Homo sapiens: one gene and its partners. The protein of the gene in region 1 purifies or fractionates together with the protein of each later gene. This does not show direct contact. Each region holds a gene or a part of one and is shown in the gene's direction. Other genes may lie near its edges.

Region 1 (3,500 bases):
CCCTTCCTGGCTGAATAGTTTCGTTAAGATGTGTCTTGGTTGGGTACCGTGGCTCATGCCTGTAATCCCAGCAGTTTGGGAGGCTGAGGTAGGAAGATTGCTTGAGCCCAGGAGTTTGATACCAGCCTGGACAACAAAGTGAGACCCTGTCTCTACACACACACACACACACACACACACACACACACACACACACACACACACAAAAGAATGAGCTGGGTACCGTGGCACACACTTGTGGTCTCAGCTACTCAGGAGGCTGAGGTGGGAGGATTGTTTAAGCCTGGGAGGTGGAGGCTGTGCTTGAGCCACTACACTCCAGCCTGAGTGACAGAGTGAGACCTTGTCTCAAAAAAAAAAAAAAAAAAAGTGCTTTGGACCAGCCTGGGCAACATAGCAAGACCCTGTCTCTATGAAAAAACACAAAAATTTAGTGGGTATGATGGTGTGCACCTGTGGTTCCAGCTACTCGGGTATGGTGAGGTGAGAGGATCACTTGAGCCAGAGAGGTCCAAGCTGCAGTGAGCCATGTGCCACTGCACTCTGGCCTGGAGAACAGAACAAGACTGTGTTTCAAAACAAAACAAAAAGATGTATCTTGGTATGTTTTTCTTTGAGTTATCCTATTTGGTGTTTGTTGAGCTCCTTGAATCTGTAAATTTATATCTGACCAAACGTGGGGGATTTTCCACCTTTTTTTTTTCAAATGTATTTTTCTGCCTTAGTATCTTTCTTTCTTTCTTTTTTTTTTTTTCCATTTAACCCTGAGTTGACACAGCACATGTTTCAGAGAGCACAGGGTTGGGGGTAAGGTTATAGATCAACAGCATCCCAAGGCAGAAGAATTTTTCTTAGTACAGAACAAAATGGAGTCTCCTATGTCTACTTCTTTCTACACAGACACAGTAACAATCTGATCTCTCTTTCTTTTCTCCACATTTCCCCCTTTTCTTTTCGACAAAACCGCCATCATCATCATGGCCCATTCTCAATGGTCACTGTCTCTTCGGAGCTGTTGGGTACACCTGCAGAAAGGCTGTCACTTCACACTTGGAAGATTGCACAGCGGCCAGTCAGAGGTGCTCCTCACTTCCCAGACAGGGTGGCGGCCGGGCAGAGGCGCTCCTCACATCCCAGATGGGGCGGCCAGGCAGAGGCACTCCTCACCTCCCGGACAGGGCGGCCGGGCAGAGGCGCTCCTCACATCCCAGACGGGGTGGTGGCCGGGCAGAGGCACTCCTCAGTTCGCAGACGGGGTGGCAGCCGGGCAGAGGCGCTCCTCACCTCCTAAACGGGGTGGCGGCCGGGCGGAGGCGCTCCTCACCTCCCAGAAGGGGTGGCGGCCGGGCAGAGACGCTCCTCACCTCCCAGACGGGGTGGCGGCTGGGCAGAGACGCTCCTCACCTCCCAGACGGGGTGGCGGCCGGGCAGAGGTGCTCCTCACCTCCCAGACAGGGCGGCCGGGCAGAGGCGCTCCTCACTTCCCAGACAGGGCGGCCGGGCAGAGGCGCTGGTCACATCCCAGATGATGGGCGGCCAGGCAGAGACGCTCCTCACTTCCTAGACGGGGTGGCGGCCGGGCAGAGGCGCTCCTCACTTCCCAGACGGGGCGGCCGGGCAGAGGGTCTCCTCCCATCCCAGATGATGGGCAGCCAGGCAGAGACGCTCCTCACTTCCTAGATGGGGTGGCGGCCGGGCAGAGGCTGTAGTCTTAGCACTTTGGGAGGCCAAGGCAGGCGGCTGGGAGGTGGAGGTTGTAGCGAGCCGAGATCACGCCACTGCACTCCAGCCTGGGCAACATTGAGCATTGAGTGAGCAAGACTCCGTCTGCAATCCCAGCACCTCGGGAGGCGGAGGCGAGCAGATCACTCGAGGTCAGGAGCTGGAGACCAGCCTGGTCAACACGGCGAAACCCCGTCTCCACCAAAAATACAAAAACCAGTCAGGCGTGGCGGCGCGTGCCTGCAATCCCAGGCATTGGGCAGGCCCAGGCAGGAGAATCAGGGGAGCCCGAGGTAGGGAGGTTGTAGCTAGGTGAGATCACGGCAGTATGGTCCAGCCTTGGCAACAGAGGGAGACCGAAGAAGGGAGAGGGAGGAGAGCGGGGAGAGGGAGAGCGAGAGCTGCATTAGTATCTTTCGCCTCTCCCTCTGGGATTACAACTACACTTAAGTTAAAACGTTTGGTATTAGGGTTTTGTTGAATGTTTTTCAATCTTTTTTTCTCTTTGTTCTTCAGACTGGTTTTTTTTCTTTTCTTTTCTTTTTTTTTTTTTTTGAGATGGAGTCTCGCACTGTCGCCCAGGCTGGAGTGCAGTGGTGCGATCTCTGCTCACTGCAGCGGCGCGATCTCTGCTCATTGCAGCCTCCGCCTCCCAGGTTCAAGCGATTCTCCTGCCTCAGCCTGCCGAGTAGCTGAGATTACAGGCACCCACCACCAGGCCTGGCTAATTCTTTTGTATTTTTAGTAGAGACGGGGTTTCACTATGCTGATCAGGCTGGTCTCGAACTCCTGACCTTGTGATCCGCCTGCCTCGGCCTCCCAAAGTGCTGGATTACAGGCGTGAGCCACTGTGCCCGGTGGAGACTGGGTCATTTCTATTGAACGGTCTTCAAGTTCACAGACTCTTTCCTCTGTCATCTCCATTCTATTACTGAACCTATCTGATGAGTTTTTATTTCAGATGTTGTATTTTTCAGTTCTAAGATTTCATTTGGTTCTTTTTTATGGTTTCTTTTTCTGCTGATGATTCCCACCTTTTCCTTCATTTCTTGTGTGTTTTCTTTATAAGAAAGTATTTCTTTTTTGTTGACAGTATTTGATAGTCCCAAAATCTGGATCACCTTGTGGCTGGCATGTTTTGGTCATTTGTTCCTTTGAAAATTGCTCACATTTTCCTGGTTCTTTATGTGTTGCATAATTTTGGAATTTATCCTCATCATTGTGAATACTTTTTGTGTAGATTTTGGGTCCTATTATAATTCTTCTGGGGAATGTTGCCGTTTCTGTTTTAGCAGGCCACCCTGCTTCAGGTTCAGGCCAAAACTTCTGTCTTGCTTTTGGAGGCATTTGTTAAAATCTCGGTTCTGTTCTTTATGTCTTTGCTATGTTGATTTGAGCTGTCCCAAACATGAATAGCTTAGGGGCTGGTCTGAGACTTCTGCAGGTGTTTCCAATCTTATTTCAGTTCTCCAAGCTTTTGCTGCTTTGGTTTGGGTCACATTAGAGTTCAAATCTCATTTTGGTTTTCAAAGTCTTTGCTAGGCTGGTACGTATGGGTATATGCCACACATTCATGGCTAAGGTTAAGTTGTGACTTATTTGGATTCATACATTGAATTAAGAGATTCTTTTTTTTGCCTGTTTTCTCTCTAGCATTCCTCCCACCCCCAGTCCCCCAACTCTGGTCCACAGGGACCTTTTTTCCTGATTTACCTGGTAAGAAAGAAGGGAGTTTCTAGAATTAAAGCTGCCTATGCTGCTCTGCAAGTGGGGTTCAT
Region 2 (3,500 bases), on another chromosome or scaffold:
CTTACATATAACCTATATAGGCACATCCTCCTGTATATTTTAAATCATCTCTCGATTACTTATAATATCTCATACAACATAGGTCTTATGTAAATTGTTACACCGTATTGTTTAGGGAATAATGACAAGAAAAGTCTGTACAGTGTTTAGTACAGATACAGTTTTTTTTTTTTTACCCCCCCGAATATTGTCGATCCACAGATGCAGAACCCACGGTTACAGAAGGGTGACTGTATAATGTGAAACACATAAGTAATTTAAAATTTACTAGGAGTCACATTTTTTAAAAGTTAAAAACTAGTGAGATATTTTATGTTCTTTTTTTTTTTTTTACTAAATTTTCAAAATCTGGTGTGTTTTAAACTTGCAGCACATGTCATTTTAGAGTAACTACATTTTAAGTGTTCAGTAGACACGTGCTTTGGGTTTCTGGAACAGTGGTCAGGAAACTCAGGATGATGTTCTGTGGCAGTCATATAGATGGAAGAGTGAGGAACTACAGGAAAGGGGAATGGAGATAATAACTTAGAACATTTACTGAGCATTTAAGATGTGTCATGCACTGTGTTAAGTGCTTTATGTTGATGAAATCGGTTGTCACAACCACCCTGGGGTAAGTACCATTATTCCCATGTTACAGATGAGAAAACTCAGCCTCACAGAGCATAGACAGCTTCCCTAAAATTACACAACTGAAATGGTAGTGTATGGATTCCAGGCTAGTTCTGTGTGTTGTTAAGCATTCTGCTACACTGCTTTGGTATGTGCAGCAGAGTCCTGGAAGTAAGTCCGTGGAAGGCAGAAACAAGGTTTATATGAGCCGTTGTGGCCAGAGATTGACATTTGGATGTATACCACAGTTCCTGTCAGGTTGTGAATCTACAAGTCCAGAATTCAAAACGACTTGGATAAGTCATCCATCTGGGGCTGTGAACAGACCACTGCCCATGCAATAATAAATAGACCCTTAATGTGGGGATTAGGGGCATTGGTCCCCTGTGCAGTCGAAAATCCATGTATAATTTTGAACTCCCCCCAAACTTAAACGCTAATAGCCTATTATTGGCTGGATGCCTTACAGATAACATAAGCAGTCTATTAGCACATATTTTGTATTATATACTTTATTCTTACAGTAACATAAGCTAGAGAAAAAATGTTATTAAGAAAATTGTAAGGAACAGAAAATATATTTACTATTCATTAAATGGAAGTGGATCATCATAAATGTGTTCATCTTCATCTTGACTTTCAGTAGGCTGAGTAGAAAGAGGAGGGGTTGGTCTTGCTGTCTCAGGGTGGCTGAGGTGGAAGAAATTCTGTGTATAAGTGGACCCCTACCTTCAAATTTGTGTTAAAGGGTCAACTGTATATCCATTACCCCCAAAAAGATACCCTGGGTTTTTTTTGTTGTCCCTCCCTCCCTCCCTCAGTTCTTGTTCCTCCTCAGGCAACCACTGATAGGCTTTCTATCACTATAGATTAATTTGCATTTTCTTGCTTTCTTTTTTTTTTTTTTTTTGAGACGGAGTCTCGCTCTGTCACCCAGGCTGGAGTGCAGTGGCCCAATCTCGGCTCACTGCAACCTCCGCCTCCTGGGTTCAAGTGATTCTCCTGCCTCAGCTTCCCGAATAGCTGGGATTACAGGCACTTGCCACCACATCTGGCTAATTTTTGTATTTTTAGCAGAGACGGGGTTTCACTATGTTGGTCAGGCTGGTCGCAAACTCCTGCCCTCATGACCTGCCTGCTTCGGCCTCCCAAAGTGCTGGGATTACAGGTGTGAGCCACTGTCCCCGGCCTAATTTGCGTTTTCTAGAATTTTATATAATGAAATCATATAATATGTACTGGAGGGGGTGGTATCTGAGTCTTTGACTCAGCATAATTTGAGATTACGCCATGTTATTACAATTACTAGCAGTTCATTCCTTTTTAGTGATGAATAGTATTCCAATGTGTGGGTAGAGCAGTTTGTTCATCTATTGATGGACATTTGTGCTTTTTCTTGTTTTTGGCTATTACAAATATAGTTATTGTAAATACTATTGTACCAGTCTTTGTATGGATATGTGCTTTAATTTCTATTGGATAAATACCTAGGTGTGGAATGGCTAGGTCTTGTGGTAAATGTAACTTTTAAAGAGTTTTCCAAAGTGATTATACCATTTTACGTTGTCACTAGGTGGTATGAGTTCAAGTTGGTCCATATTCTTGTCAATAACTAGGTATGCTCAGTCTTTAATTTTATTTTAGACTTTTAAAATTTTACTATTATTTCCTTGTCATTTGAATTTGCATTTCCCTAGTGACTAGCAATGTAGAGCATTTTAGCATATGCTTATTTGTCTGTTTGATTATTTTGCCCATTTTTAAAATAGGGATGTTCTGTTGTAGAGTTTTGGGAGTTCATTGTGTATTCTAGATACATGTCCTTTATCAGATGTGAGATTTGCAAATTTTTCTCCCAGTTTGTGGCTTATCTTTTCGTTCTCTTAACAGTGTTTTTCAAAGAGCAGAAAGTCTTTATTTTGATGAAATCCAAATTAGCCTTGTCTTTTATGAATTTATGCTTTTGGTGCCGTTGGTGTTTTATCTAAGAACCTTTTGCCTAATTCAAGATCACAAAGATTTCTCCTGTGTTTTGTTCTAGAAGTGTTAATAGTCTTAGGTTTTATGTTTTGGTCTCTGATCCTTATTGAGTTAACTTTTATTTAGAGTGAGAAGTATGGATCAAAGTTTGTGGGTTTTTCTGCATATGGCTAATTATTTCAGCACCATTTGTAGAAAAACTATTCTTTCTCCACTGAGTTGACTTTGCATCTTTGTTGAAAGTCTGTGACCATATAGGTGTGGGTCTTTCTCTGGAGTCTTTTTGTTTTCCATTGATCTGTTTGTCTAGTCTTTATGTCAGTTTCTTATTCTCTTGGTTATAATAGCTTTATAATAAGTCTTAAAATCAGGTAGTATGAGTCCTCTAACTTTGTTCTTTTTAAAAGTTATTTTGACTGTTGTAGGCCTTTGCCCTTCCATATGGATTTTAGAATCCGTTATATCAGTTTCTACAAAAAAAGTAAGCTGATATCTGGATTGGGATTCTGTTGATTACAGAGCAAATTGAGGATAGATGACGTCTTAACAATATTTAATTTTCCAGTCTATGAATATGGTATCTCTCCATTTCTTTAGATCTTTAACTTTTCTTAGCAATGTTTTAAAATTTTCAGTATATAGATTTTTCACATCTTATGTTAGATTTATCCTTAAGCATTTTATATTTTTGATTCTATTGTAAATGGTAATTTAAAATTTTTTATTTCCGATTGTTTGTCGCCAATAAGTAGAAATATGATGGATTTTTGTATATTGATCTTGTGTCCTGCAACTTAGTTCCACCAAGTAGTTTTCTGAGGATTCCATGGTATTTTCTGCAAAGATGATCATTATCCAGTCTTGGATGCCTTTTGTTTTTCTTGTTGTATTGCAGTGGCTAACACCTT
Region 3 (3,500 bases), on another chromosome or scaffold:
CCAGGCCACATAGTGAATAAATGGTAGAGCTGCGATTTGAATGCAGGCAGTATGGTTTCATAGTCTTTCTTCTTTACTATTCACCAGTCCCCAGAACAGTTTTTCAACTGTATCTCAAGAACTATGGTGCTTTGTGAACCTTGAAACTTCTGCAGCCTGTGCACCTGTTTGTAGGTGAGCTGGCTTTGAAGTTGGTGGGTCAGCATCCCTCTTACTCAAAACTAACTGCTACTATATTTTTAGCAAATAGCACTAACTTGCTTAGCTTTAAAGCAAACTACTTCTATTGATCACCAAACATAAACTATTGACCTGGGTCATTACTTTTATATTTTCTACTTTTTTTTAAAGTTCCTTTTGAGTGTAAGAAATTTGGAAGAAGGTAAGCTTTGAATGAAAGAGCAGATCATCTCGTAGGCAGCATATTTTCATAAAGAAATAGTAAACGTTAGTAAAATCCAAATGTGACTTGATATAGAAAGAAGGGGTTGAAGAAGTAAAGGTGCCTTGTCAGAAGATGGTTGAAGTAGAATTGGAAGTGTTGCTCAATTGAGCATTTTTAATAGATATTCAGCAGGCATTAACTGATTAATGGGCTTATTCTGCTGGGCACTCTGCAGGGCCCCATATCTTCCCTGTTTTCAGAAACATTTCTAAATTGAGGAGGTTTGCCCAGGATACGGAAATAAGTGAAAAACAAGTCGTGATAATCTGGTGGTGTAGCGAAGAGGGGCCTTTCAGTGATCCCCCAACCCTCTGCAATTAGGCTTTGACCAGTATTTAATCATGTGGGGTTTTTTTATTGTGTATGTGAGATATGTGTGTTAGGATATTTATGTTAACTTTCCTATGTCAATCTAATTCAGCTGCAGATGGGACCTGTCCTGGTACAGAGGGGGAACAAAACAACTTGTATTTGGAGCAGTGGAGAAAAATTCAGTTTTTAAAGACATAAGGAAAGCTTAGTGAGCAAAAAAATTTCCTTACAGACTGATTTTTTTTTTTTAATTTTTAGGTTTTGTGGGTACGTAGCAGGTATATATATTTATGGGGTACGTATTTTGTTATAAGCATATAGTGCATAATAACCACAGGGTAAATGGGGTATCCATCACTTCAAGCATTTAGGGACTGATAATTCTAATTTTTAAATTTTGATTGTGAGCTAGCTTTCCTTGTTGTCATATAATTACAAGTCAGTAACATGTCCAATATATTTTTCTCATCTTTCCACGTTTCAGGAGACCAGTTTTGATTTTAAATGTTCTCAATCCAGACTAAAGACAACCAAGTATTCTTCTCAGAAAGTGATAGGAACTCCTCATGCCAAAAGTTTTGTGCAAAGATTCCGAGAGGCTGAGTCCTTCACACAACTTTCTGAAGAAATCCAGATGGCAGTTGTATGGTGCAGGAGCAAAAAACTCAAGGCTCAGGCCATTTTTCTGGGTAACAAACTTCTTAAAAGCAACCGGCTTAAACATCTGGAAGCTCAAGGTACTAGGTAGGTATATTGCAAAAATTATGTTACTTTACTTTTTCTGTTGTTGTTATGAGTAAAAGTATTCAGGTCACTTTTCTTTAAAATGTGATGTCCAGCAGCCGCAGCGGGGCTAAATTGGGATGTACTCAAACTGCAATTGCATTTGCTGCTTTTATTGTAAGAGCAAAGCTGTATCATTGGAGGAAGAAGATAAACAAGTTAATTGGACTTCAGTCCCCGTTATGCTCTTCATCATTTCCATCAGCTCATTCAGGAACCATTAAGAGTGTCTAGTGTGCTGAGCCTGAGGATACAACTGCATAAAGACGTGACTTGGTCTTCAGGGAGCTCAGGGTCTTCTGGGAAAGGCAGCCCTTCTGCAGACAGCTTCAGTGCAGTGCAGTGGGATAAGGGCATGAGAGCAGAAGCAGAAGGTGCCTGCCTTCCATGAGGCCCACACAAGACTGCTGGGGTGTTGTACTGTTGCTACTTGCTACTGTTTGTAGCAGCTGGACTCTATCTATATTTCTTTTCTGTGATTTTTATATTCACAACTGTTTAAGGGTGCTTATCTTTGCTTGTGAACCAGTATTGCATGAAGTATTACATGAATTTAGACATTAGACACTTCAGGGCTTAACGGTAATGATTTCAGACACAAATATGTATTAAGAGCCTATTCCACCTTCACAGAGGCAATTATTCTGACCTGTTTTTTATTGTATTCTTTAACAAATATCCTGTGCATGCCCCATAATTTCTTATCCATAGTTTAGAGCTATTCAGGGATTTAAAGTTCATTCCTGGGGATGAACCACGTATTGAAAATTTGTTAAATTTTCTTTTAAAATTTGCATAAAATATATTCCTGTTTTAGAAAAAAAAAAGTATACAGTGAGGGTTTTGTAACACATTTTGATTAAAAGCTATGGGGAAAGTGGTTGAATATTCCTGAGGGATAAAGTGCTTGAGGGGTTTTTACATTGAGATGGCTCCTCTAAAGGTCTGTAATAATCTAAAAGTGATGTATCCTATGGCTGGAGACGCAGCCTGAGATGGAGAGAAGCATTCTGTTTAAAATTGGGTTTAAAATCAAGGGTAGATGAGGCAGAGGTAACAACTAAAAGTTAATGAGAAGGGTAGCAAACTGGTGTTTATTGGTTAAACCATTACTCAGTACTCCCCCAGATATAGTGCTCCTTCATAGATTGCCCTGTTTTGCTGTTTCATTAATATATTTGTAGTAAACTTTATAATTTATTTAATGTCCATAATAACATTGTGAGGTAGACAGTATTATTCCCATTTCATAGATGGGTAAATGGAGGATTTTGCTCAAGGGGTTAGATGTGGAACTCAGTTCAGGCCCTCTGTTTTCCTTTCAACTCTGAAGTACACCCACCTTCTCCCCACTTAAAAGCCACTGCTTATAGTGAGATAAGAAAATGGTATGGAAGCAAAGATCATGATTTACTTTATTATAATGGGCTTCCTCAAAGTTTTATATCCATGCCCGTCTTTTAAAATCTATCACAAACAGTGAAACAATTCAGCAAGGCACTGATGAACCTTGTGGCAGTGTACCGTGTGTGGAAGCAAAACACCTAAAATGATCAGCTGTTTGATTTCTGAATTTCCAAACTTGAAGATGACATATGAATCATAATTAGGGTAGCTTAAGGCTGTCTGTGTATCTGGGCCAGAAGCCCTGTCTTCATATTGTTTTATAAACCCCTCTTAGCCTTTATTCCTTTTTCCTTGTTCATTTCCTGCCACAGCATGAAGCTGATTATCCAGATTCGGATTAATACGTACTGGCAGATTTTTTCATTTGTGATGTTTCCTCATGTCCACTCATTACATTATGAACAGATTAGCAGTTATGAGGGAAAAGCTCTGACACTAAAGTATAGGGTATCTCGCCATTCAGCTAATTGCTAGGCGGCTGTACTTTTGAGAGTTTGAAAGCAAAATGGGGACACATTCGTCTACACTTCAATCAGAGGGCATTTGTGCTCTC
Region 4 (2,243 bases), on another chromosome or scaffold:
ATTCTCAGTGAGGAAACTGAGGCACAGAGCCTGAGTCACTCATTCTGTGTCCTCAGCTGATGAGTGATAGTCAAGTTCCAACCCTGGCTTCTCCCTCCTCCACCCTGCAGCTCTGCTGTCTCCCCTCACCACTCCCTACTCACTTGCCTGGCTCCTGCCCCACTGTCCTGCTGAAGTAGTCCTTAGGAGACCACAGAGGACCCCTCCCATCACATCTCACCATTTTCCACCCTTGGTCCAGCTGAGTCCTGCCCCCGCTGACCCGGCAAATCGTTCTCTGCCCTGAGTTTGCCTCTTGGCTTCTCCACTTACCAGCCATGTGGTCCTGGGGCAGGTTACCCTCCTTGAGTCTTTGTGTCCTTGTCTGTAAATGAGGATAATAACCGTACCCACCTTGTTGAGCGAGGATTGTAAGAGATTGTGTATGTGAATCATTTCCCACAGACCCCAGGAAGTCTTCCCTGTATACTTCTAATCTTCTCACTACATCCTGCCCTGATGTGCTCACCCCATAAACTCCTGGCCTTTAAATGTTATCTGTTCATTGTCCCCTTGTTTCAGATCTTCTTTTCCTGCAGAGGTTGGCTTGAATGTGTCTTCCTGTATGTTGCAATAGAAAACACCATTGTATGACTGTCACCCTGTCCTCTGGAGTGTGATTAGAAACAGGTATTATTGCTTTAGCTCGTTTATAATGGGTTTCTACAAGCTTTCACAGTCAGGTTAACAACACACTATTAGTCTTATTTCTAATTCTTGGGTTTTAAAGGCATTGTTACATTTATTTTGACCACAGTTTCAGTTCAGTTTATTCTCTGATTACAGCAAAGAAAATGCTCTAAATGTAGTAGCAGAACGTAACATATGTCTTTGTGAGAACTCCATGACACTATAGTATCCTAAGACATTGCCGTTTTGGTATTGAAGGAGTTGCCAGCAAGGAAGTGTGGATTTATTGGTAATTGTTTTATTGTTGTTGCTTTGGTTAAAATCCTGTCTTAAGAAACATTGTTTTACTCTTCAGTTTTCATAATCATTCTTCTTATGTATGATTGAACATCTACAAATTTCCTCCTCTGATCTTCCGATCAAATGGTAAAATTGCCATCTTTTCAGAACAGTTATCAGGATTCGACATCGGAAATTGATTTTCAACCTTTGGCATTTTCTGAGTGACTTAGGGTAGGGAGAGACCTCCCTCTAACACCCGGGTTTGTGTGGGCTGCAGAAAGCTGCTGGTCTAATCCTAGATGCAGACATTGACCAGGCTGTGCCCTGGGTTTGGGTTTTGTAGGGTCAGAAATATGTTTAAGAGTTTTTTCCGTTCATAAAGAGCTATCTGGCTGTCATCCCAGCCTTCACTGTGGAACCCTGGAGGGCTGCGTGGAACTTGCTGGACTCTGCTCCCGCAGGGCTGAGTCCTGAAGCCCTCAGGAGCCCATGAGGAGGCCAGTTGCTTTAAGCTGCTTAGGGGTTACTGGGAAGCTGCCGTGAGCTTTCACTGCTTCATGTTGTTGAGTGTGACGGTGGGTTTTTCCCTGTCCTTTGGCAAACCGCTGTATCATACACCTCATTTGCCATCAGAGCATGAGGGTGTATAGTTCTTTTTTTCCCCATGAAAACAACACAGAACAAAGCCTCACTTTTAAAAATGCCATGATATTTTGCCGCTGTTATGAAAATCTGTCAGCGCCGTATCTAATCTTCTGGTGCATCGAATATCAAAACAAGTACTATTGAAGGGATTGTACTTCTGTTAATACAAAAATGTCAGCTTCACAGTCTCAGAACCAGCTGCTATCAGCCTCTTTCCAAATGGGAAAGAAAAATAATAAAGTTTCTTTTCCCTCTCTGCTGTTACTGTTCTTCAGGCCTGACCTTCATAAGAAGACCCAGAGTAAACACAGCCTCGCTGAAATCCTACGTTCGGAATACTCAAGCGGCATGGAGGCCGACATCGCCAAGGTCAAAAAGCAAAACGCACCTGGAGAGCCTGGTGGCCGGCCCCTGCAGCACAGTCTGCAGCCGACACCCTGCTTTGGCCGTGGGAAAACATTAAAATGGAGAAAAACCCAAAAAGGTGTACAGCGGGACAGCAAGACTTCCCAGAAAGTTTAAAATCTCTCTGGGTCTTCGAGTGGAACCTGGAAGCCCCGGGTGGCAGTGGATTGATGTCCAGTTCTTGTCAGAGGAGGCTTGTGAAAAATAACTGCGCCTTTGCCTGAATACCACGTCCCCAAGAA

The links. Proteins that work in one complex are often made in the same cells at the same time.
Region 2: the proteins of ZNF512 (region 1) and DDX24 purify together in Homo sapiens (affinity purification with mass spectrometry; 2 studies listed by BioGRID and IntAct, with this or other methods). This does not show direct contact.
Region 3: the proteins of ZNF512 (region 1) and RMP64 purify together in Homo sapiens (affinity purification with mass spectrometry; 2 studies listed by BioGRID and IntAct, with this or other methods). This does not show direct contact.
Region 4: the proteins of ZNF512 (region 1) and DDX31 purify together in Homo sapiens (affinity purification with mass spectrometry; 2 studies listed by BioGRID and IntAct, with this or other methods). This does not show direct contact.

Annotation. Positions count from the first base shown.
Region 1 is NC_000002.12:27,593,042-27,596,541, forward strand, and holds part of ZNF512 (zinc finger protein 512), read left to right. Parts: intron 1-3,500. UniProt on the Homo sapiens protein: May be involved in transcriptional regulation.
Region 2 is NC_000014.9:94,074,703-94,078,202, reverse strand, and holds part of DDX24 (ATP-dependent RNA helicase DDX24), read left to right. Parts: intron 1-3,500. UniProt on the Homo sapiens protein: ATP-dependent RNA helicase that plays a role in various aspects of RNA metabolism including pre-mRNA splicing and is thereby involved in different biological processes such as cell cycle regulation or innate immunity.
Region 3 is NC_000003.12:113,006,172-113,009,671, reverse strand, and holds part of RMP64 (nucleolus and neural progenitor protein), read left to right. Parts: intron 1-1,241; coding exon 1,242-1,501; intron 1,502-3,500. UniProt on the Homo sapiens protein: May play a role in cortex development as part of the Notch signaling pathway. Downstream of Notch may repress the expression of proneural genes and inhibit neuronal differentiation thereby maintaining neural progenitors.
Region 4 is NC_000009.12:132,594,741-132,596,983, reverse strand, and holds part of DDX31 (ATP-dependent DNA helicase DDX31), read left to right. Parts: intron 1-561; coding exon of another isoform or gene 562-616; exon of another isoform or gene 617-1,841; intron 1,842-1,871; coding exon 1,872-2,118; 3' UTR 2,119-2,243. UniProt on the Homo sapiens protein: May have DNA helicase activity and RNA helicase activity. Probably have ssDNA and RNA dependent ATPase activity. Plays a role in ribosome biogenesis and TP53/p53 regulation through its interaction with NPM1.